4 linked regions of the Homo sapiens genome follow. The protein of the gene in region 4 interacts with the protein of the main gene of each other region in a pairwise test. Each region holds a gene or a part of one and is shown on either strand. Other genes may lie near its edges.

Evidence for each region.
Region 1: the proteins of ANKRD27 (region 4) and RAB40A interact in a two-hybrid assay, tested with the Homo sapiens proteins (one study listed by BioGRID).
Region 2: the proteins of ANKRD27 (region 4) and KIF5A interact in binary tests that used the Homo sapiens proteins (3 or more experiments, as listed by UniProt).
Region 3: the proteins of ANKRD27 (region 4) and RAB40C interact in a two-hybrid assay, tested with the Homo sapiens proteins (one study listed by BioGRID).

What each region holds. Positions count from the first base shown.
Region 1 is NC_000023.11:103,516,462-103,523,755, forward strand, and holds the start of RAB40A (ras-related protein Rab-40A), read right to left. Parts: upstream 3,029-7,294; 5' UTR 2,909-3,028; intron 1,483-2,908; exon of another isoform or gene 1,187-1,482; intron 1,065-1,186; 5' UTR 913-1,064; intron 1-912.
Region 2 is NC_000012.12:57,553,034-57,560,062, forward strand, and holds part of KIF5A (kinesin heavy chain isoform 5A), read left to right. Parts: intron 1-7,029. UniProt on the Homo sapiens protein: Microtubule-dependent motor required for slow axonal transport of neurofilament proteins (NFH, NFM and NFL). Can induce formation of neurite-like membrane protrusions in non-neuronal cells in a ZFYVE27-dependent manner.
Region 3 is NC_000016.10:585,672-593,094, reverse strand, and holds the start of RAB40C (ras-related protein Rab-40C), read right to left. Parts: upstream 3,030-7,423; 5' UTR 2,804-3,029; coding exon 2,662-2,803; intron 1-2,661. UniProt on the Homo sapiens protein: RAB40C small GTPase acts as substrate-recognition component of the ECS(RAB40C) E3 ubiquitin ligase complex which mediates the ubiquitination and subsequent proteasomal degradation of target proteins.
Region 4 is NC_000019.10:32,596,492-32,602,195, reverse strand, and holds the end of ANKRD27 (ankyrin repeat domain-containing protein 27), read left to right. Parts: intron 1-69; coding exon 70-181; intron 182-2,145; coding exon 2,146-2,224; intron 2,225-2,419; coding exon 2,420-2,492; intron 2,493-3,817; coding exon 3,818-4,051; 3' UTR 4,052-5,190; downstream 5,191-5,704. UniProt on the Homo sapiens protein: May be a guanine exchange factor (GEF) for Rab21, Rab32 and Rab38 and regulate endosome dynamics.

The sequences.
Region 1 (7,294 bases), on a different chromosome or scaffold from region 4:
TGTTGCCAGGATTTTTTTGATATTGTATTTTCACATCTCATCTTGTCTACAAATGCCCATTTTTGACCTACAATTATTTTCAACTTACAATGAGTTTATCAGGATGTAACTCCCATAGTAAGTCAAGCATGGGGTATGGAGTATGTACAATCCATACTCTCACCTTAGCAAATGTTTAATATTGAGCCAAATGCAGAGGTTAAAAATATCAATAGCCAGCAATCCCATCATAATTAAAATTAACATGGTACTAGATCTTTCTAAGGATTTTTTATACATGGATATATGCACATGTACTGTACATGCATTACAAATACAATTCATAAAGCTGTTATAATTATATGTACAGTATAGCATCCTGGGTTTTTTGTTGTTATTTTCAGTTTTGCTTTTGTCTTAAGTACTAACATGTGGATGAAACATTCTAAGTACATGACAAGGTATAAGATATAATCTAACTTTGCTTTTTAATGAACCCTTTACAGCTGGCCCAGACCCAATTCCTTAACAATGCATTTGAGTAGAAATGCCATACTTGCAGCATCTTAAATGACGTTATATGCCAGGGTCTACTCAAGAGCTTTCTTTAGACTTCTTTAACCTGCATGTCAACCACTCTGTCCAAAACTTATGAAATTATACGCTCAAAGAACACTTTAATACCTGGCAAAGTAATCCCCACTTTTATCATTCAGTCTTTGTATGCATGATAGGAATAATAATAAAAGACATAAATAGTTACAGGGCACACGGTAGATAAATTGGTTGATACAGATCATGCAACCAGCAAGTAATGGTTATCAGGGTCAAATCCAAGTCCTTCTCACCCAAAAGCCCCCTCCCCTAACCACTATTTCTATACTGAGTATCCTTCTGTGTTAGACCAGAGGCCAACAGAGGGAAGAGACTCACCCCAAAAACCACAGTCAGTTGATGGGTCGAGTAACTAGGGTACAAATCTGATGACTCCTGTCTTCTGTCTAGCTGACTCATTATTATTCTTTGCTCTTCTGTACTATTTCTTCCTCCCATGGCTCAATAAGAACTCCTTCACCCACGTCACACTAGAAAGAAAATAAGAGAGCAGAGAGTACATGGAATCAAAGGAATGATAAGATAAAACCAACATTCATTTATTGCTACTATATTTCTAAATGCTCTCTGTTTCAAATCTTCTATTTCATAGGGCACAATTATTTTATCTTGGAACCAACAATCTTCGGAGAATGTATCCCAAAGATACAATTCAAAAAGATAAAAAGGCAGAAGCACAAGGTCATTCTTGGCAGAACAAATTGTAACAGCAGAAGACTGGAAATAAGACAGATGTCCACCAATAAAGGACTGACTGAATAATCTAAGGTGCATCTACATCCTAGATTTCAATGCCGGTATAACAAGCAAGGAAGATTCCCTCTCTCTGCTGCTATGTAGTGATTTCCAGGATATACCATTAAGTGAATAAAGCAAAGTGCAGAAAAATGTGTAGAGCTGCTGTTGTCCCATACCATACCCACTGGCCACTCATGGCTATTTAAGTTAACTAAATTTAAATGGAATTTTAAATTCACTTCCTCAGTCACACTCACCACATTTTAGGTGTTTAATAGTCACAGGTAGCTAGTGGCTACTATGTTGGACAGTTGAGACATAGAATATTTTCACCTTTGTAGAAATTCTATTGGACTCCACCAGTGTAGAATATGTCACCTTATATATATGGAATAGGAGAAAACTAATAGAAACATTCTATTTGCTTATATTTTTAAAATTGGAAAGTTTTAATGAAAATTGATTTAAAAAATCATTACCTATAAAGAGAAGGAAAAACAGCCCAGGACAGAAGCCAATAATGTCTTTTCCCTTAAAAATATAATATATATACACTGGCTCCATGCACTAGAAAGGTGAAGAAACATGATAGACCCAGTAGCAATGAGCAACTCTAGTGCCCATATTGAATCCACTTAAAACACATCACACTGAAAGGAACTAGGTTATCTTAGAGAAATGACTGAGTTTAGGTCTGTGTAGCCATTCTACTAGATGAATCTGGACCAAACTATCATGCCAGAGAGTGCGTCAAAAAGACTCAGAAGCCAAGCTTAAGGGGCTCTCGCTGGACAAAGATGAAGCAATTTGAACATTAAATAAAATAATGACTACTATGGATTAAAACACATTATAATATAAAAACTTCTACAGCTCATGATGACACTCTAAAAGAAAAATAAAATAAAACAAACAATATCAACTCATTGCTTGCCTTTGGAGAACCCTAGGGAAACAACTCATTGTTTTGAAAAGTGGAAATATTGCAAAAGAATTAGGCACTCATCCAACCCTTTCTATACATACTATCCCTCAGTGTAACCTAATGGTTTATGAAAGTTTATTTAATAGAATAATTCCAGCTAATAAAGCAGAGAAAATTATAGAATTAGAATATCATCCTTTTATGACCTTTAATGAATATAGAACTAAGCAACAATCCTTAGACGCTGCAGAAAAATCGAGGTGAAAAAGGGATGGGAAATTTTATAATGGATGGATCAGCTTAACAATACTTGAACATAGTAATTAATCTTAACATCACAAGAGGAGAGACAATTAGACACAATGAGCCCCCTGTGTAACACTATAGGAATAAACAATACCACATATGAAGTACTTCTGACCAAAACAAATCTAAATTGAATCAAGCCTCTGAATCTAACACCATTTTGTTAAATTTTTTTATTATACTTTTAAGTTCTGGGATACATGTGGAGAATGTACAGGTTTGTTACATAGGTATACACGTGCCATGGTGGTTTGCTGCACCCATCAACCCGTCATCTACATTAGTTATTTCTCCTAATGGTAATATAAAAAGAGAAAGAAATACTTGGAATTTGATTTGGAAAACCTTTCTCCTGTAGCCAGTCCACCTCCATGTGCTTGATACAGTTGACACTTCTTACCCTACAGGAGATTATTCAGCCTATCAGCCAATCTAGAAAATAAAATCATGAGGATCCATGTTTGGTGGTATAGGAACTATTAAGTTTATATTGGAACATTTTGCAAAACATGTTAAAATTAAGTTAAAATGAATGTGGCTCGAAATTAGGATTGTAAGATTTCGGATTTCAACTCAGTTTCCACAGAGAAGTTTGGTTGACCTAAATTTTAAATATGTTAGGAATAAGCCCCTGCTGCACATCATTATATTCAAAGTTCTCTGTAGCTTCATTTGTGAAAACAAATGGATGAATGGGTATATATTTGTAAAACATGTCTTTGGGATAAAAAGGCATTTTGAGTTCTTGGTTTTCAGGATGTTCCTTCTGGTATTCTTCAAATAAATGCTTCTATAGTATTATAAAGATAATTTCATTAACCTGCTAAAATGGGAATGTATTTGTCTATAGCTACAAGGTAAAAAGTGTTATGAATAATAATTTTAAGATGACAGATATTAAATAGTTCAAATATTATTGATAATAAGATTTTTTTAAAAAAGAAAATATATGTTCATCCAAAAGAATGAACATGAACATTCATAACACCATTATTCATGAGATGTCAAAAACTGGAAAATACACAAATCTCCATCACAGATAAATATAGTGTGAAATATCCAAATAATATAATACTTTACACCAATGAGAATAAGCAATCTACAATATAGACCACAATAAATATTAATTTCACATACATTATGTTGACTGAAAGAAGCAAGACACAAAAGAGCACATGCTGTATGATTCCAAGAATTTCTCTTCTAACCTCCCAATAGAGATTGGGGCAGGAGAGGAATATCAACAACTCATTTCCTTTTATTTCAAGGTACTTAGTGTCTTTTTATGTTATCTGTAGCTTAACCTCAGATAAGTGAAGCAACTTTCTTCTGAGCCCTTGAAAAGTGATTAATTACACATAAGATGAAAAGCTAATACTATATCTGATGGACAGGCAATGTGGTGTGAGAGATTCGGGCAAGAATCCTAAATGGATGCTCAGTCTGCACCAAATCACACCGCAGTCACTGAGTCACCATGGTAACCATTCTGGCCAAGGAAAGCTGAGAAAAAACAAACACCACTATCCCGAGCTTGTTCCTAATATGTACTAGGAACTAAATAGGATTGACATGATGCACAGTAATTAACCTCAAGTAGTCCTTACAATAAAAATTCCTGACAGCTTCAGTGACATACAAATGTATACATACTCACATACATATATGCTTGCTCACCCTCTCACCACTCCAAATTCCAAGAATTTATTGAGGTTGATTTACTGGTGGGTAAAGAAGTAAATCTCGCCAGGCATGGTGGCTCGTGGCTATAATCCCAGCTACTCAGATGGCTGAGGTAGGAGGATTGCTTGAGGTTAGGAGTGTGAGAGAAGTCTAAACAACATAGCAAAACTCTGTCTCTGAAAAATGTTTTTAAGTTTAGCTGAGCATGGGGGCACACACCTGTAGTCAGTTATTCAGGAGGCTGAGGTGAGAGGATTGCTTGAGCCTGGGAGTTCAAGGCTGCAGTGAGCTATGATTGCACCATTGCACTCCAGCCTGAGCCACACATTGCAACAAAATCATTTCTGACCACACATATAAAGTTGAAAGCTACTAAACTATGTTCTTTTGGTGTGATTTCTGAAGATGACCTGTAGAATTGTCTCTGGAACATTTTCCTCCATAGTTTCAATATATCGCCAATGACTTGTAAAAGCAGATACGGAAATACAGGTAAACACAGGTTAAGGATCAAATACCTTTTCCATCCTAGAGTAAGCTGTGCTTTCAACCAAAAAAATGCCTCACTGATGTTAAACACTTGGTTGCTGATAGTACTGTGAAAATATAGTAATTAGCAATTGTGTTTAACAAACAAAGCCATGTATAGCATCATCAAGAGTATGAAATATTTATGAACAATCTGTCCACAGATGTGCAGTGCCTGTACACTGAACACCACACATCATTGCTGAGAGAATTAAAGACCTAAATAAGTGGAGGACTTACCATGCTCATGGGTCACAAACAATACTGAGAAGATTCAGTATTGTTAAGATGTCAATTCTTCCAAAACTGATCTATAGATTCAGAGCAATTCAAATGGAAATCCTATTAAAAAATTTTTAAAGAAACCGACAGGCTGATTCTAACATTCATATGGACATGTAAAAGACCTAGACTCTATTAGTCTGTTCCCATATTGCTAAAAACAAACACATGAAACTGGGTGATTTATTTTAAAAAAGGGGTTTTCATGGCTTACGGTTCTGCAGGCTATATAGGAACCATAGAGGCATCTGCTTCTGGAGAGGCCTCAGGGAGCTTTAACTCATGGCGAAAGGTAAAGCGGAAGCAGGCGTTTTACATGGCAGGGAAGGTGCTACACACTTGTAAACAACCAGATCTTATGAGAATTCTATTATGAGAACAGAACCAAAGGGAGAAATCCACTCTCACGATCCAATCACCTCCCACCAGTCCTCATATCCAACATTGGGGATTACAATTTGACATGAGATTTGGGTAGGGACACAGTTCCAAACCATATCAACTATGAAGTACAACTTTGATAAAGAACAAAATTAGAAGACAAACACTACCTGATTTCAAGACTCCTTACAAACATACAGTAATCCAGACAGTGTGCTATTGGCATCAAGATGGATTAGTAGATCAAAGGAACAGAATAAAGAGTCCAGCTATAGACCCACAAGTATATGGACAACTGAGTTTGACAAAGATGCAATGGTGATTCAGTGGAGAAAGGATTATTGTTTCAACAAATGGTGCTGGGACAAGTGAATATTGACATGCACAAATATAAACTGTGACTCAGATATCACACTATATACAAAAGTCTATTCAAAATGGACCTGAGATCTAAATATAAAATTTGATGCTATAAAACTTCTAGCAGAAAAAAAAAAAACAGGAGAAAATCTTTTTGACAATGGGTCAGGTGAAGATTTCATAGATGAGACAACAAAACCACAATCTATAAGCAAAGAAATTGAAAAATTGGACTTCCTCAAAGTTAAAAACTTTAGCTTTCCAACTACATGGTTGAAAAAATAGACAAGTAAGCTGCTGACCGGGGTAAAATGTTTGAAAATTATATATTTAATAAAGGACTTGTATCCAGAATATGTTTAAAATCTTAGTAAGAAGAAAACACACACCAGTAAAGAAACAGGCAAAATATTTGAATAGACATTCCACTAAAGAAGACATACAAATATCATGTAAGCACAGGAAATGATGCTCAGCATCACTCGTTATAAGGGAAATGTAAATGAAAATTTCAATGAGATCCTACTAAACTCCTGTGAGAATTAAAAAAATTAAAAAGACAGATTATACCAAGCTCTGTCGAGGTTGTGGAGGATGAAACAGTGATACATTACTGGTGGTAATGAAAAATGGTACAAACACTTGGAAACAGGCAGTTTCTTACAATGTTAATCTTACATCTACCACATGATCCAGCCATTGCACTCCTAAGTATTTATTAGAGAAAGAAAGCCTATTTCCATGGAAAGACTTATTCACAAATATTCATAGAAGCTTTGTTTACAAGAGATCCTAATTGGAAATAATTAAAATATCCAACAACAGGTGAATGGATAAAAAATTTATGATATAGCCATATACTGGAATACTATTCAGCAATAAAAAAGAATGAACTATTGATATGTGCAACAAAATGGATACATCTAAAAATAAATTGGGTGAATGAAAGAAGCCAAACCAAAAATCAAAAACAAACGCAGAAAAACATTTCTACAATTCCATTTAAATAAATGTCTAGGACATAAAACTTAATCTATAGTGACAAAGTATTGTGTTTGTCTGGGGACAGGGCAATAGGAGGGATAGAGAGTCCTAGTAGTACAGAACTGAAAATCTTATGTTCTGGGAAACAATGATAATAATATTTAGGCCTAGCTGGTTATTTTAGGGGACATGACTGGGTATCATTATAATAGAGCAAATTATATGGAAATTATTATTTTTCAAAATATTGAACTTTTGTATCTGACATTTTGACAGTTTTAACTAATACTTTGTACATTTTTGCCTTCTTAAAAAATGTATTACAGAATGGATAATAACATGGTTACCATTGAAAAATGCATATTACAATCTCCAGTTGCTTGGAAGACCTTCTGACCAACTGTGTATTTCAATGCCCATCTGAGAGATACATGGGAATCACTGATCATTATTTATACAGGCAGAAAACATATGTAAATTTATTTCAAATACATGTTAAACATCAAGTTGATT
Region 2 (7,029 bases), on a different chromosome or scaffold from region 4:
CCTGAGTCATAGCAGAAGGGTGTCTGGGTCACCGTCTGTGTGTGGTGCCCATCTTGTTTTGCTTTTGCACACTCAGAATCCAGTGTGACTTTTTCGCCAGACCCATTTAAGTGTCTGTCTTCCTCTGCCTTGGTCTTTCTCAGCAGTGTCCCAGTGCCTGCTGTCTGGACTGCTGCATCTGTACCAGATGTGGGAGGGATGACAGTGAAGAAACACATACATACACACACACACTCTTTCTCTTTCCCCTTCATTCAAGTGTACACAGCTACCTCCCTCAGGTCTCCCAATGGTTAAGTGGGTTCTTAATGCAAGAAACTAGGACCATTGTGTACCTCACTTGGCAAAGCTAGGTTGGGACCTGCAGGGTTATTGGAGCAGAATCAGTATTGTTTGGGGTGGCCTGGGATTTGATATCTGAAGTGGGGAGCAGGGCTGTCCTTTGCTTTGGGGGAGTCTCATAAAGAAAAATGGAGACGAGAAGTAACGTTCATTGTGGCCAGTGTCTCTCCAGCATTACCATGGCAACAATCCCCACGGGTGTCACTATGGAAATCAGGCCTGGCACTTGAAGTTCAGCTTATACCAAGTGCTTTACTGAGGGTTGAACAGGTTGGTCATCTTTGGACCCCTGATCTTAAACCCCCAGCCCCAATTAGCTTCAGTCAGCACACATGATAGAAAAGTACAGAAAGGTGCTGGGATACACAAATGGAAGAGGAGACACCAGGGAGGCTCGGAGTGTGATTAAATTAAAAGAGAACAAAGAACCCTGGACTGTGGGACTCTGAAGAGAGGCCCTTCAGAGAAGGCTATAAGGAGCACTTAGACTGCTGGGGGTGGGAGAGAGATTGGATTTCGGCGACATTTCTAAGAGGAGGAGGGACTCTGTGACTATTTCTCATTAACAACTCACAGAGTCTTCGATTACCTGGAGGTAGAGAGGGTGGGTGGCAGAATTACATACTTCTGAAAATGGGATTGAGGTTGGAAAAAGGGAGTGATGAAAGGCTTTAGTTCTGTCTGGAAATACTTGGAAAAATGCCCAAATGTGAGGAGGGGGGATATGGAGTAGGGGAAGAAAAAGCCTTGATAAGGCTCTGACACAGTGTTGGCATTTCAGTTCTTGGATCACTTTGCAGTGTGGGTCTGGAATCAGATTGCTTGAATTTGAAACTGTGCTCTACCATTTCTCAGCCATGTGACTGTGGGGAAGCTACCTGACCTCTTTGAGCCTGTTTCGTCATCTATAAAGTGGTAATAATAATAGTATCTATGTCCTAGGATTACTGTGAACATTAAATGAGATAATGCATATAAACTGCTTTGTAACATGGCAGGCACACAGTAAACCCTCAATAAGAGTTAGATATTATCACTATTTTATATGCTATCTCCCCACAAGCTAGCTTTGACAAAATTGGGAAGTGGGTAACACTTTTCCTTTTTACTAATTGTTTCATGCAAACCTCCAGATCCCAAGTATCTTCTTGCTCCCTTCCTTGTCAATATCTATGTTTAGTCAACAAATATTTATGAAGAGCATCTGTCATAGTCCTCTATATGTTGCTATAAAGGAATACCCCAGGCTGGGTAATTTATAAAGAAAAGAGATATATTTGGCTAACAGTTCTGCAGGCTGTACAAGAAGCATGGCACCAGCATCTGCTCTGATGAGGGCCTCAGGAAGCTTCCAGTCATGGTGGGAGGCAAAGAGGGAGCAGGAATCACATGGCGAGAGAGGGAAAAAGAGGGAGAGCAAGAGGTGCCAAGCTCTTTTTAACAGCCAGCTCTCACATGAACTCATAAAGCGATAACTCACTCATTACCATGGGGAAGGCACCAAGCCACTCATCAGGGATTTACCTCCTTGAGCCAAGCACTTCCCACCATGCCCCACCTCCAACAATGGGGATCAAATGTCAACATGAGATTTGGAGGGGACAAACATCCAAACTACATCAGCATCCTATAGGCCAGGGACTGTGTTTGGTGTTGGGGATTTAAAGGGAATCCCTGCCTTCAAGAAAATCTGGATCAAGGTTGTGATCCATAGCCCATGGAGTGGCCTGCGCAGAGGCAGGGGAGAGGAACATCAGATATGGCTTTTGCTAACTATCTATATACTCCCCCAGATTCTGATAAGGAACCTCCCACAACATACTACAGTCTGATTCAGAGTATTGTGTGTTATGAGAGCTGTAAATAATGGTGGTGCTTCCCATGTCTATGGGCAGGAAAAGTGGAAGACCACTGGTCTAGTTATTTTCATGAAAAGATCACTTTTCTCTAGGCACATTGCCCATGGGTTAGCCCTGCTGTACAAGGAGCAGTAATGAAAAAAAAATCAGGCAAAATTAATTCATCCTGAGTATAATCAATAGAAAATTAAAAGAAATGTACAAAACTTAGCCGAGCATGGTGGTGGCTGCCTGTAGTCCCAGCTACTCAGGAGGCTGATGCAGGAGAATTGCTTGAACCTGGGAGGCGGAGGTTGCAGTGAGCCGAGATCTTGCCACTGCACTCCAGCCTGGGCAACAGAGCAAGACTCCGTCTCAAAAATAAATAAATAAATAAAAATTAAAAAAACAAATTGGCTGGGCACGGTGGCTCACGCCTATAATCTCAGCACTTTGGGAGACAGAGGCGGGTGGATAACAAGGTCAGGAGTTCGACACCAGCATGGCCAACATGGTGAAACCCTGTCTGTACTGAAAATATAAAAATTAGCCGGGCGTGGTGGTGGGCGCCTGTAATCCCAGCTACTCGGAAGGCTGAGGCAGGAGAATCGCTTGAACCTGGGAGGCGAAGGTTGCAGTGAGCCAAGATCATGCTGCTGCACTCCAGCCTGGGCGAAAGAGTGAAACTCTATCTCAAAAAAAAAAAAAAAAGAAAAAGAAAGAAAGAAAAAAAAGAAAAAACAAATTTACATTTTAAAAGGAATAAACAACTTAAAGACATAAAGAGCCAGGCTTGGAATTTTAGAGCCCAGCCAAGAATACAGAAGTAGGTAGCAGGCCTTCCCAGAACTCCTGAAATCATATCTCATGTCACATGGCTTTCCCTGCTCAGGAGATTACTAAATGCACCAATTTTTAGCTCTTGGGTATCTTTTTTTTTTTTCAGACGGAGTCTCGCTCTGTCACCCAGGCTGGAGTGCAGTGGCGCGATCTCGGCTCACTGGAAACTCCGCCTTCCGGGTTCACGCCATTCTTCTGCCTCAGCCTCCCAAGCAGCTGGGACTACAGGCGCCTGCCACCACGCCCGGCTAATTTTTTGTATTTTTAGTGGAGACGGGGTTTCACCGTGTTAGCCAGGATGGTCTCGATCTCCTGACCTCGTGATCCACCCGCCTCGGCCTCCCAAAGTGCTGGGATTACAGATGTGAGCCACCGCGCCCAGCCCACTCTTGGGTATCTTTTAGACTCAGATCTGAGAATCTCTTCCTTCTTCCCTCTCTGCTCTTTTCTTTCTTCCCAGCCTAGACTGATGTAAAGGGGTTCCTGATGAAAAGGGGCTATAATTGGCTTCAGCATTTGGAGAGCGCTCTCCATTTTAATGCGTCTGTGGAGCCTTCTAGATCCTGTAACTGGGAATGTTTTGAGGGAGTGTGTGTGGGGGCTGGGGTGGGGTGGTTGGTGTGTTGGTGCCCATGTGTTTGTGGGGGGAGGGGAGGGGCAAGATTGGCTTGAGAGTTACATTTAATCCCCTTTGGCTGGGTGCCTGGCTTCATGAAGCATGGATAGAGATTGTTGGTGGGAAAGAGATGAGAAAGCCAGTCTCATCTTTTCACATTTTTCTGCCTGTTTTATATTCTGGCTGCACTGGCAGTTGATTAAATGATGCCCACCCAGATTAAGGGTGGATCTGCCTTTCCCAGTCCACTGACTCATATGTTAATATCCTTTGGCAACACCCTCACAGACACACCCAGGATCAATACTTTGCATCATTCAGTCCAGTCAAGTTGACACTCAGTATTAACCATCACAATTCCACCCCTCATCAACTTGAACCCATACACATCTCCTGAGATCGTACAAATCTTCAAATAAGGACAATAATAAGGTCATAATTATGCGCCTAATATAATACAACTATCCTTCGTACAACCGGAAATGCACCAATCCCCAACCCAAATGCTATTATATAAAGTTAACATACTTAAATGCTGATACGAAGTCAATAAGTCTTATGTCACATAATAAAGGAAAAAGGAAATTAAAAAAAAAAAGATGAGAGGCATTGGCTTGAGATAGACATATTTTGCTTGTTTCTGTTTCTTGGCCACTGGGTGGGAGAAACATTGAGGTAGATTACAATTTAAAATTAATTACAATTCAAAATTAAGGTAGATTTTTCTTTAATAATATTAAAAATAATGTAATTACAACACTAATACATTTTAATTGTTAACAAAGTTCAAGACAAAGGAAAGGACACCGAAGAAGCTAAAAATCACCCAATATCTTACCACCCCAAAGAAGCACTGTTATTAATAATAATTTGATGTATTTTTCCAGTGTTTTTTCTACATATATACATATGTTAATTTTAATAAGATTATATATCATAAACTATATATTGTTTTGTAACCTTTTTTCTCAAACAAAATATTATTACTATTTTGCCATTGTTAAATATTTTTACATAACTTTATTATTTTACAATTTTTCTGTTTTTTTTTTGAGATGGAGTCAGGCTGGAGTGTGCAGTGGTGTGATCTTGGCTCACTGCAACCTCTGCCTCCCGGGTTCAAGCAATCCTCCCACCTCAGCTTCCTGAGTAGCTAGGATTATAGGCATGTACCACCATGCCTGGCTATATTTTACAATTTTCAATTTAACTTTCGAATGTCTTACCTGCACATGTGACAAAATGCAAAGGATATGAAAAGGTTTATATTGTTTCCTTCTCCTTCTCACCCCTCTTTTCCAGCCACACAGTTCCCTTTTCAGAAGGCAACTTCTTGTGGATCTTTCCAAAAACCTACTATACATTTATAAGCAAATACATATATACATGCATACCTTTTTTTACACAAATGGTAGCGTATTATACATCCATTCTGCACCTTTAAAAACAAAAACAGCCTGGGTGTGGTGGCTCATGCCTGTAATCTAAGCACTTTGAGGCCGAGGCGGGAGGATCACTTGAGGTCAGGAGTTCGAGACCAGCCTGACCAACATGGTGAAACCCCATCTCTACTAAAAATATAAAAATTCTGGCTGGGTGCAGTGGCTCACACCTGTAATCCCAGCACTTTGGGAGGCTGAGGTGGGCGGATCATGAGGTCAGGAGATGGAGACCATCCTGGCCAACATGGTGAAACCTCGTCTCTACTAAAAATACAAAAATTAGGCCAGGTGCGGTGGCTTACGCCTGTAATCTCAGCATTGGGAGGCCAAGGCGGGTGGATCACCTGAGGTCAGGAGTTCAAGACCAGCCTGGCCAACATGGCCAAACCCCATCTCTACTAAAAATACAGAAATTAGCCGGGTGTGGTGGCGGGCGCCTATAATCCCAGCTACTCTGGAGGCTGAAGCAGGAGAACTGCTTGAGCCCGGGAGGCAGAGGTTGCGGTGAGCTGAGATGGAGCCACTGCACTCCAGCTTGGGCGACAGAGCAAGACTCTTGTCTCAAAAAACAAAAAGCAAAACAAACAAACAAAAAACCCAAAACAAAACAGAGTCTTGGACACCCTTCCTTATCAGCACATAAAGATTTATCTCATTCTTTTTTGGTTTTGTTTTGTTTTTCAAGACAGGGTCTCACTCTGTTGCTCAGGCTGGAGTGCAGTGGTGCAATCATGGCTCACTGCAACCTTCACCTTCGAGGCTCAGGCCATCATCCTGCCTCAGCCTGCTGAGTAGCTGGGACCACAAGGCCCATGCCACCACACCTGGCTATTTTTTTTTAATTTTTGTAGAGACAGGGTCTCCCTATGTTGCCCAGGCTGGTCTCCAACTCCTGGCCTCAAGGATCCTCCAGACTTGACCTCCCAAAGGGCTCGGATTACACGGTACATGAGCTATCTCATTCAACTGTATAATTTGTTGTAGGGATAGGCCATTATTTAACCAGGCCTCTGTTGGTGGACATTAAGGGTTGTTCTAATCATCTGCTATTACAAACAGTTGAATGACCTTGTATAAATATTTTTTGCATATGTGCAGTATGTCTACAGGATAAATTTTTCGAAGTGGAGGTCATAAAGCATATGCATTTAAAAATGTGAGGCTATTTCCAAATTGCCTTTCACAGAGTTGGCTCCAATTTCTATGTACCCTCAGCAGTATGTGTGAATATCTATTTACTCACATTCTCACCAGTGTAATGCGTTGTCTATTTTATTTTGGCCACTTTCATAGGTAAAAATGGTGTTTCATAGTTTTAATATGCATTTTGCTTATTAACAGTGAGGTCGAGCATTAATTAATATTAATTAATATATTTTAACATTTAGGAGCCACTATAACATCATTTTATGATGTTATAATTTATGATAGTGATATAATTTACATACAGTGTACAGATCTTAGGCAAACAGCTTGATAAATTTTATGACATATGTAGACACCCATGTAACCACTACACAGATCAAGATCTAGAACATTTCTGTCACTCCTGAAAGCTCCTTCATATCCTCTTCCTGTAAATACCACTTGTATGTTGTTACCACAATAGCAGGTAGCTGCTGTTTTGACTTCTAGCACTACAGATAAGTTCTGTCCATTCTTGAACTTCATATGAAGGGAGTAATACAGTATGTGCTCTTTTGTGTTTGGATTCTTTCAACGTGTTTTTGAGATATATTGACGTTCTATTTATTAATGTTCTATTATGATATTTTAATTTTATTTATTTATTTTTTTTGGGACAGAGTTGCACTTTGCTGCTCAGGCTGGAGTGCGGTGGCGCGATCTCGGCTCACTGCAACCTCTGCCTCCTGGGTTCAAGCGATTCTTGTGCCTCAGCCTCCCAAGTAGCTGAGATTACAGGCATGCACCGCTATGCCCAGCTAATTTT
Region 3 (7,423 bases), on a different chromosome or scaffold from region 4:
CCTTCTCTGCTCGAGGCCACAGGACTCCTGCGGGGACCTGGAAGTGTGCCCCGGGCCCTGAGAGCACGTGGTGTCTTTCTAAGAGTGGACTCTCCTCTCTGCCTCTGGTCCAAGCCACTGTGAGCCTCTGAAGTCTCTGCAAGCAGGCAGGTCTCCACGTCTTACACAATACTGGCCCCACTTCAGTGAGCATGTCAGAGGAAGTGTGGCAATGCCCCACAGCCCGACGAAGGGGACAGGGAGGAAGGAGGGTCCTGTCTCTCCAGCTCCTGGCTGTGTGGTGCAGTTGGGTAGGCGAGCTGGCCAGCATGGCTGAGCCGGCCCTCAGAAGCACGCCTTCATGTCCTGGGAAAACACCGATTGATGAAACCCAATCCTTCCCGTGCTCTTCTGAACATGCACAAACACGCACGCCGCCAGCCTCCTGGGAGTGCGCAGCGCCCCTGGAGCCAAGCTTTAGAAGGCAACGCCACCTTCACAATCAACTTGGCCGCCCACCACCTGAGTCAGGAGTTACCAATTCTGGGGCAGTCACTGTCAAGTGCAGGACCAGGAGGCGGCAGGTGCAGGGGCCTAACGTGTGAGCCCCCAATGCCCCAGTGGGCCTTACACTTCCCCCACCTCAAAATGGACACAGAGCTCTTCCTCCCTGGCCCTTTCCAACCCCTCCTCCAGGCTGAAGCCAGGAGCACAAGCTTCCAGAGCCCCCGGTGCTGCTGCCCACTGCTGAAGCCATGCCAGGAGGAAGCGCGCTCAGCCTCAGTCCAGGTAATCCCACGCTCTGCCAACCCCCGAGTTGAGAGAGTGGGGGATGCTGCGCCCACACTCTCAGCAGCCAAAGGCAGACAATTCAGCAAATAGCAGACGCTCAGGGCAGTCAGACAGGACGGACAAGAGCCCAAGAAACAAAGCAAGGGGAGAGGGCAGGGACCAGGAGAGGTAAGTTCGCCAGCGTAGATGGCATTCCCTGAAGCGCAGATGGACTCTGGGGAGGCTGGATGCTGACTGCTCCCAGTTCATCTGGGGCCACATCCCATTCGGCTGGGTCCAGGCCCCCATGAGAGGGGATGAGGACCACACCGTCTCACTCACTCTGTTAACCACCTAAATTAAGAGGCATGCTCAGGCAGGCAAGCCCCAGTGATGCCACCTATCTAGTGTATTTTAGCCATGCCACTGGAAGTTAAAAACAAACGTTCAGGCCAGGCGCAGTGGCTCACGTCTGTAATCCCAGCACTTTGGGAGGCCGAGGTGGGCAGATCATGAGGTCAGGAGATTGAGACCATCCTGGCCGACATGCTGAAACCCCGTCTCTACTAAAATACACACAACAAAATTAGCCGGGCGTGGTGGCATACACCTGTAGTCCCAGCTACTCGGGAGGCTGAGACAGGGGAATCGCTTGAACCCAGGAGGCGGAGGTTGCAGTGAGCTGAAATTGTGCCACTGCACTCCAGCCTGGCGACAGAGTGAGACTCCGTCTCAAAAAAAAAAAAAAGAAAGAAAAGAAAAGAAAACAAAACAAAACAAATGTTCAGTAACTCATTACAGAGGTATTTTCTTCTAGCACAAAGCGTTGACTCCCTCAGCAGTAAGCAAATACCTCAGGGGAACAGCGTGCCTATAAGGACCTGTCATCTGTGCACGCTCGAGACAGGGTCCCAAGAGCAGCCCAGCAGCACCTGCCACCAGACCTGGGTCCGTGACACCTTCCCCGGGCCCATGACACCTTTCCCCAGATCTATAACACCTTCCCTCGGACCCCAGATGATCCCAGACCCATGACACCTTCCCTTAGGACCATGATGCCTTCCCCCAGATCTATGACACCTTCCCTCAGACCCCAGATGATCCTAGACCCATGACACCTTCCCCTGAGATCCCAGACCATGACACCTTCCCTTAGGCCCATGACACCTTCCCCTGAGATCCCAGACCCATGACACCTTTCCCCAGATCTATGACACCTTCCCTCGGACCCCAGATGATCCCAGACCCATGACAGCTTCCCTTAGGACCATGATGCCTTCCCCCAGATCTATGACACCTTTCCTCGGACCCCAGATGATCCTAGACCCATGACACCTTCCTTTTGGCCCATGACGCCTTCTACCGGGACCATGACATCTTTCCCCGGACCCCAGATCCTGGACCCATGACACCTTCCCTCGGACCTATGACACCTTCTCCCAGACCCCAGATCCTGCACCCATGACACCTTCCCTCCGGCCCACGACACCTTCCCCCGAGCCCATGACACCTTCCCTCGGACCCCAGATGATCCTAGACCCATGACACCTTCCCCAGGCCCATGACACCTTCTCTAGGACCCATGACACCTTCCCCTGGGCTCCAGATCCCGGACCCATGACACCTTCCCCTGAGATCCCGGACCCGTGACACCGTCCCCCAGACCCCGGGTCCATGGCACCGTCCCCGCTGGGCGCGTCCCTCTGGTCCGTCCTCCTGCCCCCCGGCGTCACCTCGGGACTGGAGCACGGGCACCCCGCAGCCACCGAGCTACCGAGTCTGGAAGCCAGGCAAAGGCGTTCCTGGGAACGTTCGGCGGCGCTTGGAAGGGCCGGGCCGAGGGCGAGCTCCGTGCCCAGCTCGCCGGGCTCGGGCCCCGCGTAGCAGCGCGCGCCGCGGGCCGGGCCTTACCGTTACTGTAGGCGTACGGGGACTCTGCCGCGCCGTCCTGCAGGCTCTCCAGGATCTCGCCCTTGCCCACGTCGCTGTCGCCCACCAGCAGGAACTTGAGCAGGTAGTCGTAGCTCTTCACCGGACTGCCCTGCGAGCCCATGGCCGCGCCGCCTGCGCCCCGCGCCGGCCGCCTGCCGAAGCACCGCCGGGTGAGGCCGCGGCGTGAGAGAGCCCGCGCCCCGCACCTGCGCCCGTTGCGTCCGCCCCACGGCGGCCGAGTGGGCGCGCCCGAAGCCCAGCGCCGGCCCCGCCCCGCCCGCGCCCGGGCGCACCTCAGCCTCGCCGCCGCCCCGCCGCTTCCCGCACCACCAGGGCCGCCGCGCCGCCCCACCCCCGGCCGCGCCGCCGCCATTGGCCACCCTTCGCCCGCCCTCCCGAGCCCATTGGCCCACCCGCCCGTCCGTCACGACTTCCCCGCCCTCACGGCGTTCCACACGGCGCCGCCAGACCTCCGGTCGCACCGCCTCTTCACCACCCCGCCCTGCCTTCCCGTAGTCACCAGAGGTCGCCCGCCGCCCTCCTTCCCTCAGCCATTGGCCTGTCTGCACGTCTGTCATGACCGCCCCTCCCCCGCCTTTCCCACACGGCGTTGCGGAGACAGCGGACGCCTGCCTCATCGCCGTCGCCATTGGCCACTCGCCTCCTGCTTTCCCGGAACCATTGGTTCGATTATAAGTTCACCAAGATCATTCCCTTCCCTGCGGCTGCCTCCCAGAGAAATCCCAGAGCCGCCGGCCGCCCCGCCCCCGGCCCACAACGCCGTTGTCCTCGCCCGCCCCGTCGCCGGCGCCATTGGGTCGCTTGCATGTCCATCACGGCTCTGCTAACCCCGCCCCTTTCCTACACGCTCGCCAATCAGGGGCTCGGAAGTCCACGTTGTTTGTATCCGCCCCTTCAACGCGCGGACGGGCGGCAGGATGCAGGCGCGCCCGAGCCGAGGCGATGCGGCTGAGTCCGGGAAACGAAAGCCCCTCGCAGGCTGTGCCGCCTGCTTCCGCAGAACCCTCGGAGGGAGCGGCGGGGTGGCCCCGGGCGCGTCCTCTCTAAGGCGGTGCGGCCAATCGGCGCTCGATGAGGCGGAACTTCCTCTCCGGGGCAGGGGCGGGACTTCCGCCCGGCGGCGGCGGGGCGCACCGTTGGGTCACCAGTGAGTCTGCAAAGTCGCTGAGGTTCTGGGACAGCGCGGCGTCACCGAGCGTGAGCCTTCCGCCCGGGGACGCGGCCGCCACAGCTCGGGACGCGGGGAGCGCGGCCGGCGCGAGCTCAAGACCCGGCCCGACGTGCTCACTGCGGCAGCGGCGCCTCCTGGACGGGGACCCAGGGCCCGGACCGCGCTCTTCCCGGGGGCGCCGCCGAGCCCTCGTCCCTGCCGGGCCCGGCTGCCGCAGGTGCGTGGGCGAGCGAGGCGGCTGCGTCCGCGGGCCCCGGCGTGGGGTCGGGGGTTGAGTGGGCACGTGGTTCTTTCTGGGGTGACGAGAAGGTCCTACCGTCGTGGGGATGGTCCTGCCTCTCTCGGTGAAGTTACTCACTCGGAACGGGTGAGCTTTGTGATACGTGCTCTGCGTTCAGTAGCGCTGTTACAGTCGTAAGTAAAAGCAGTAACGTCAGCGCCGACCCAGCGCAGCCCTCTCCAGACCGGGTGCGGAGCCCGTCACGTCTGCCCCGCCGGCGAGGAGCAGAGCCCGGCAAGAACCCTCCTCCAGAGGGGCCCCGACCAGGGCTGTGCCTCCGGGAGCAGGTGCTGCTTACACAGAGGGACGCCAGGACGGGCAGCCCCACACCTCCAGTGACCTCCCGTCCCCCAGAGCTGAAGACATGGCCTGACTAAGCGGCGACCACATCGACGCACCAGTTTTTTCTTTTTTGAAACAGGGTCTCCCTTTGTCGCCCAGGCTGCAGTGCAGTAGCGCGATCTCGGCTCACTGCAGCCTCTACCTCCCCGGCACAAGCGATCCTCCAGCCTCAGCCTCCCGAGTAGCTGGGACTACAGGCGCCACCATGCCCGGCTACCTTTTGTATTTTTTGTAGAGATGGCGCCTTGCCAAGTTCCCCAGGCATTAACCCGGAAACAACCTGGCGGGTCAGGGAGAGCCTCTTCTGCTCAGAGGTCATTGTGCCCAGACTTGAGCCCTGGCTGTGAAGTCCCTGAGGCCCCTCACTCCAGGGACGGGAAGCACCAAAGATGTGATGTTTCCTCCTCGGTTTCTGAGACTGCCTGGAAGCGGGGGGTGGATAGTGGTGAGCAGCCGTCTCCTCCTTTCCTGAGAACATAAATCAGAAACGCTTTCTGAGGCCGGGCACGGTGGGTCATGCCTGTAATCCCAGCACTTTGGGAGGCTGAGGTGGGTGGATCACCTGAGGTCAGGACCAGCTTGGCCAACATCGTGATAACCCCCTCTCCACTGAAAATACAAAAATGAGCCAGGCATGTTGGTACGTGCCTGTAATCCCAGCTACTTAGGAGGCTGAGGCAGAAGAATTGCTTAAACTCGGGAAACGGAGGTTGCAGTGAGCTGAGATTGTGCCACTGCACTCCAGCCTGGGCTACAGAGTGAGACTCTTGTCTCAGGAAAAAAAAAAAAAAAAAAGTGCCTCAAAAATAAACAATTAAAAATGTTCTTATGGTCTTCACAAAAATAAACTTTTTTAAAAAAGAAAAACAAAGTAAAACGCTCTCCAGACCCAGCCGTGGGCCACTGCTGCCTAGTTCCCACCTCCTGGGACAAGAAAGGGTCATCCCCTGGCTGATGAAGAAGTCAGGTTTCTCCCACTGGAGCTGCCCACCACAGCCTGTGGACACAGCCCTGTCCTGGGTTCCTGGGTTCAGGAACCTTTCCATAGGGTGAGATCCTTGGAAAGCTGCTGTGCCCTCTGACCTCCCAGCCTCCGAGCAGAAAAGTGTCCCAGGGAACCCAGATGGGTCTAGGGCAGCAGGCCCAGTGAAGGGAGGGACGGACTCTGGGGCAGCAGGCCCAGTGAAGGGAGGGACGGACTCTGGGGCAGCAGGCCCAGTGAAGGGAGGGATGGACAGAGGGGTGCCATCCTCTGGCATCCAGGCCTTGTGGACCGAGGGGCAGCTGCGTGCACTTACGCAGGGTGTCCTGGGGTCCACCATGGCCAAGCCAGGCCTGGGCAGGGGCAGGACACCATCCCTGCAGCTGAGAGATCTCAGGCCAGGGACAGGGCAGCCAAAGACAGTGGAGTGTGGGAAGAGACCTCCACCCAGAAGTTTGGGGTGAGCCACCACCTGGGCACCCACTTGTTGAGCAGTCAGGGTATTTCTGGGCCCATCTCGGAGGCCTGAGCAGTGTCTGGTGGAGACCCTGACAGCCCCCTTCTGCCACACCCCACACTCAATGGCCATGGCAGAGACGGGCCAGGACACTAAGCGGAGCCTCTGTCCAAGTGAGGGGCTTGGGAGACAAAGGGAGCAGTTTGGGGTGTCCACCCTGCCCCCGGGGAGCCCAGCAGCCGCCGGGATGTCCTCAAAGTCCTGCTAAGGGGGTGGACAGTTGCCCAGTGGGGCAGACAAGCCTTGGCCCCTGAAGCCCTGTGCCCAGGGAGCACCTACAAGTTTCAGCTACTCAGGGACCCCCCCCAGTCCTGGCCTGCTGCCAAGGGGAGGCCTCACTCACATCCCATGAGTGGACAGAGCCAATCACCTTGGTGGACACAGCGTGCAGTGGATGAGGGCAGTGAGGGATGGAGCGTCAACATGGTCCCATTTCTGTGGACAAATTAATGACAAGGGAATGTAGCTTTGCAGCGGAAAATCCTGCAGACAAGACCTCGACCAAGTAGTCACGTTGGCATCACTGGGATGAACAGGTGGGCTCTGTGTGCCACCCTGGGTGGTGCCCTCTGCTGCTGCCACAAGCATGAGTGGCATCTCATCATGAGGGTCACCAGCAGACCCAGCCAGGGACACTCCTGAGTAACGGGCTCCATCCCTAAGCCCCCAGAGGCTTTGGAGACTGGCCCATGACACGTGGGACACGCTGGAATGGGGTCGGTGGCTTGGACGGCATCCCTGCAAAAGCCCCGGGTTTGAGCACCGCACTGGCTGCCTTGTTCTGAGGAAATGCACGCTGAAAATTCCAGAGCCAAAATGGGCAGCTGACTCAAATGGTGCAGAAAAACATAAAGAATGTGCTGGCTGGGCCCGGTGGCTCACACTTGTAATCCCACCACTTTGGGAGGCCGACGCAGGCACATGGCTTGAGCCCAAGAGTTTGAGACCAGCCTGAGTAACACGGTGAAACCCCATCTCTACTAAAAGTACAAAAATGAGCCAGGCGTGGTGGTGGGTGCCTGTAATCCCAGATAGTCAGGAGGCTGAGGTGGGAGAATCACCTGAGCCCAGGAAGGTTAAGGCTGCACTCCAGCCTGGAAAATAGAGACCCGCTCTCAAAAAAAAAAAAAAAGAAAAAATGTGAAAACATACACATGGCATGTGGTCGTGGGGGGATGTAGGTGAAGGGTGCTGGAAGCATCTGTGTTATTCTCACAGCATTTCTGTAAGTCTGAATCTGTGAAGTACTGGTGAGACCCTTCTCTGTGGGCGGCCCCAACTCTGAAAGGGAAGGTGTCTGCTTCTGAGGGTGCCCTGAGGGTCCATAAATGGTCCTGGGCAGGCCTTGGAAAAGCTCCAGCCCATTGCCCTGTCTGGGTCGGCAAGGCAGGGGGGACCAGAGCTCTGGTGGAGGGATGAGGGGCACCC
Region 4 (5,704 bases):
CAAAAACAAATAATAACCTATTAAAAAAGAATAAAAACATTACTGTTCCTTTTCCCTTTCAAATTGCAGAATTCAAAAATAATGGAATTGCTTCAGGTGGTACCAAGCTGTGTTGCTTCATTAGATGATGTGGCTGAAACTGACCGCAAGGAGTATGTCACTGTTAAGATCAGGAAAAAATGTAAGAGTTTACGTTCTTTCTGTCACGCTCAAGTTGGGTATATTTAGACATTCATGAGTAGTTGCTGGTGTTCATTTAATTGTATATGTAAAGTGTAATTATAATCATGCCTGGAGGAGATACAGGCACCAAAGAAATGTATGTTACCTCCCAATTTATCAGACTATGGGTAAGCTTTTTTTGTTACTAGTTTTCTGGTTGATGGTAATGATGTTTCCTGAGGAAATAGGATAGAAACTGTCAACACTACCTTGAAGGTTCAGGTGTCTGCCTATGGAGATGGGGAACAGTCTCTGGGATAGTTTCTTTCATGCCTCATGTTCCAAAGTCAGGTGTTCTGGGCATTTCCTGGACATCCAGGGTAAATGCTACCTTTCAAGATTTTTTTTTTTTTTTTTTTTTTGAGACAGAGTCTCGCTCTGTCACCCAGGCTGGAGTGCAGTAGTGTGATCTCAGCTCACTGCCAGCTCTGCCTCCTGGGTTCACGCCATTCTCCTGCCTCAAGTAGCTGCCTCCCACTCTCAAGTAGCTGGGACTACAGGTGCCAGCCACCACGCCCAGCTAATTTTGTTTTTGTATTTTTAGTAGAGAGGGGCTTCACCGTGTTAGCCAGGATGGTCTCCATCTCCTGACCTCGTGATCTGCCCGCCTTGGCCTCCCAAAGTGCTGAGATTACAGGTGTGAGCCACCAAGATTTTTTATTTAGTTAGTTTTTTTGAGACAGAGTCTCACTCTGTCACCCAGGCTGGAGCGCAGTGGTGCAATCTCAGCTCACGCAACCTCTGCCTCCTGGGTTCAAGTTATTCCCCTTCCTCAGCCTCCCGAGTAGCTAGGATTACAGGCACGTGCCACCATGCCTGGCTAATTTTTGTATTTTTAGTAGAGACAGGGTTTCACAATGTTGGCCAGGCTGGTCTCAAACTCCTGACCTCAAGTGATCCGCCCTCCTTGGCCTCCCAAAGTGCTGGAGTTACAGGTGTGAGCCACCGCGCCTGGCCTCAAGATTTTTTTTTAAGTTTGTACGTGTACGGAGGTTGATTATAATTAAAACAGCAGTTGCCGAACAGCAGTGAGACTGAAGTATTTTCTTCTTTTTAAAAAGTTTAGAAGGGGTCCTTGTTCTACTTTTTTTTTTAATTTACAATATGAAATATTATCCAGTGAGGTATGCAATAATGCAATACAATAATATGGATAAACCCATTCACATATCTCGATAACCCTGAGACTGTCTCACCGTAATTGGTTGTGGCTGGGGGAGTTAAGGGAGTTAAGGTTTTATTTTTCTATTTCATGGGGGTTCTCATAATACAGGCTGACTACCCCCTATCTCAAATGCTTGGGACCAGCAGTGTTTTGGGTTTTGGAATATTTGCATTATACTCATTGGTTGAGGATCCAAATCAGGAAATCAGATTCTTCTGAGCATGAAGTCAAAGAGTTCAAAATGTCTCGGATTTTGTAGCTTTTTTTTGAGATGGAGTCTTGCTCTGTCGCCCAGGCTGGAGTGTGGTGGTGCAATCTCGGCTCACTGCAACCTCTGCCTCCTGGGTTCAAGCGAGTCTCCTGCCTCAGCCTCTTGAGTAGCTGGGATTATAGGTGCGTGCCACCACGCCTGGCTAAGTTTTTGTATTTTGGGTAGAGATGGGGTTTCTCCATGTTGCCCAGGCTGGTCTTGAACTCCTGACCTCAAGTGATATGCCCACCTCGGCCTCCCAAACTGCTGGGATTACAGGCATGAGCCACTGCACCCAGCCTGTGGCATTTTAGGCTTTAGATTTTTGGATTGGAGATACTCAACCTGTTATAAATAGGTACTAGCTGTGTTTCTTTAAGCAAATTCAGTGCTTCAGTTTCTAAATTTTGTAAATCTGAGAATAGAAAGATTGTGTCTGTGCTGTAATTTTAAAATAATCTTTACAACTGTTTTTGAAGTTTTTAGATGTTTATCTTTTTATCTACAGGGAACTCAAAACTGTATGATCTACCAGATGAGCCTTTTACAAGACAGTTTTACTTTGTCCACTCAGCTGGTCAGTTTAAGTGAGTATGAAACTCAAGTTGATTTCTGTGCTTTTGCCCCTAGTTTACTCCAAGCTGCACGTAAGCTGCTTCAATTGTAATTGGTTATGGACAAATCTGCACCTACTAATGTCAAAAATGCTGCCACCTTGTGGCCAACCAGAGTGTTTCATGCCACTGTCCCAAATATTTATTTTCGTTTATTTTGGGTTTTAGGGGAAAGACTTCAAGGGAGATTATGGCAAGAGATAGAAGTGTCCCTAATTTAACCGAAGGTTCTTTGCATGAGGTAAGTTATTAAACACTGGCTTTTAATCATATTTTCTAAAGCCCGGCTTTGTCAAAAGTAATCCATGGTAAACACGTCTCCTTGATCGTCATCTTCATTATTCCGTGCGCCGTATGAGTTAGCAGCAGTTAAAACTGGAATTATTTCATGGGACAGTGTAGAGTACAGACTTCACTGATTGTTATAACTAAAAGTACATTTCTGAGCAGAGGAGTGGAAAGTGTTACATGTGTGGGAAACCACAGGTCTTGGTGCTTATAGGAGATGAAACATCCCACATTTCACTATGGTTTTAATCACCAAAGAAAGAAAACGACAGTTTGTATATAGATGGGTAAATGATGTCTCCAAGTATGGTGTACAGTTGCTCAGACAATTCTTTATGTGGCCATCTTCCCACTACATTTTTTTATTTATTTATTTGAGACAGAGTCTTGCTCTGTGGCCCAGGCTGGAGTGCAGTGGCACGATCTCGGCTCACTGCAGTCTCCACCTCCCGGGTTCAAGCATTCTCCCGCCTCAGCCTCCTGAGTAGCTGGGATTACAGGCATGTGCCACTATTCCTGGCTAATTTTTTTGTATTTTTAGTAGAGACGCAGTTTCACCACGTTGGCCAGGCTGGTCTTGAACTCCTGACCTCAAGTGATCTGCCCGCTTTGGCCTCCCAGTGTGCTGGGATTACAAGTGTGAGCCACCGTGCCCGGACCCTACTGCATTTTTAAATCACTCAGAAGCTTGATTGAAAACCTGTGATCGGAGACAGTGATTCTTCTCAGAACCACAGCTTTCCTTGTTGCTGATGAGAATTTATAGCATATGTAGCATAGGCTTGTTGGAACAAATACACAAAAGTTCTAAATTGTTTTAGATAATTAAAATGATTTTAATTAACATGACTAATTTTGATACCATATTTAGTCTTATGTGGTGTTGCTAGGAGACCTGCTGCTTTGTGGGAAAGCCAGAATCGTTGAAATCTGCCTGAGTTCCATCAAGTGCTAGCTTTTCCCTTGCTAGCTGTAGGACTTTAGGCAGGTGGCTTAACTTTGCTGATCCTGTTTCCTCAGGTGTAAAACGGGGATAACAATAGTAGTACATGCCTCCTAGAGTCATAAAGATTGTGAAAACAAGTGAAACATTTACTCTGACACATGTAGTATGCACATGCCATGTTACCACGACAGGGATGTGAGAATTGAAATTATGCCTGTCAAGCACTGAGCACATTATGTGACACTAGGCACTAAGGGGCAGCTGTCACTGTCATGGTTGTGGCTTCCAGTACAGTGAGGACGTCAACGGTTAAAAATGTACTTTTTCTTTAGCCAGGGAGGCAAAGTGTCACACTGAGACAGAATAACCTGCCAGCTCAGAGTGGATCTCATGCTGCTGAGAAAGGCAACAGCGACTGGCCAGAGAGGCCTGGACTGACACAGACTGGCCCTGGACACAGACGGATGCTGCGGAGACACACGGTAGAGGATGCGGTCGTGTCCCAGGGCCCGGAGGCTGCTGGCCCCCTCTCCACTCCCCAAGAGGTTAGTGCTTCCCGGTCCTAACAGGAATGAGGAGTTGTTGAACCCACTGCTAGGAAGCAAGGATGCAACAAGATGATGCTGAGCGTGAACACATCTGAGAACTAAATGTGCTTCCATGAGACTGGCTTGAGAAGTCTTCAGCACCAAGTTCCTGAAAGCTTTTCTGTGGCAGGAAAGAATGCAACAAAAAAGTTAACCACCACCATCTCTCTCCTCTTCAAAGCTAATGAATACAATTGAAACAGACAAAAATTCCAGTAGCATCCAGATCCTTAAGCCAGAGGTGCATGCTTCTTTTTAAGTATGAGGGTTTGTTGGTCACAGTGGGAGAGGTTTCACCACCGCATTCTGACCTCCTCCTCCCAAAAGGTGCTAAACCTCTCTGACCTGTGTACATTCACAAACCACAGCTAGAATTCCTCCACCTAGGATTAAGCTGGAGAGAAGTAAGTAATTTAGGTTTCATGGTACTGTAGAGGCCAGGCTGAAATGTCATATCTGAAGGAAGAAAGCAGCAGCTGGACAATGTTTCTTTGCAAAGCAACACTCGAACCAAAAGATGCCTCAATCCCATTTTGATATTCATTTTAGTGAAAGGATGCATCAGACCTGTTCCACATCATGCACATGGGAAAGGGTGGTTATCATTTTCCTTCTAACAAGTAGGTACAGATATTCGGTTACTACACGTGCACCTGTAGCAGTATTTCTAGAAACATCCCTTTTTGTTGAGAACCTCCCTTGAATGTCTGTCACACTCACACCTGACGGGATGGTTACTGGATTAGAGAGTAGATTTGGCACATCTTTTCTTAGTCTTTTGATTCAAATTCAAAACTTAACAGCACAAACCAGGTCAGAGTTACTTTCGGTTAGAATTTATTGCCATTTATTCCTTTTTATAAATTTCTATAGATTATACTGTTATTTTTATGTTATTGGCCTAGAGCTACACGTATATGGGTTTGTCCTGAGTCCGTTTTCAAATGACCTTGTGATAGGGAAATGGTTTTGTCCATGTTCTTGGAAATACTTGTGTATGTACAGAAGGAAGGGAGGGATTATTTTTCTACAAAGTAATTTATGATTTCTAATTTTCTAATGTGCCTTGGATATGTGCCAAATGATGGAAAAGAAACAGTAAACTTTATGATTCTTGACTGTGTCATGGTATTTTTTTTTAGTTGTTTGGCTGCAGATGATATGTTTCTCAGCCTGTCTGCTGTAAACATGTGCTTTGTGTGTGAGAAAAAGGGTCCCCATTGAATGGATATACATTTTTCAGTTATAGATGTGAGATTGAAACATGGGAACTTGATCACTTAGCTCATTATTCATCTACTGACCAAGGCCTACTTAACCCAGTAGGCACAGTGTCCCGGGCCCACAAAAATGTTTTTCTTTGGAAATCAGAAGAATAAAATGAATACAGCTTCCTACCCCAAACAAACAGGAAATGAGCCCTGTTGCTTTGCTAATTTCTTTGTTCTGATTTTTCCTTTTCCCTTTTTTTTTTTTTTTTGAGATGGAGTCTCGCTCTGTCACCCAGGCTGGAGTGCAGTGGCACCATCTCGGCTCACTGCAGCCTCCGCCTCCCAGGTTCAAGCAATTCTTCTGCCTCAGCCTCCTGAGTAGCTGGGACTATAGGAACCCACCACCATGCCCGGCTAGTGT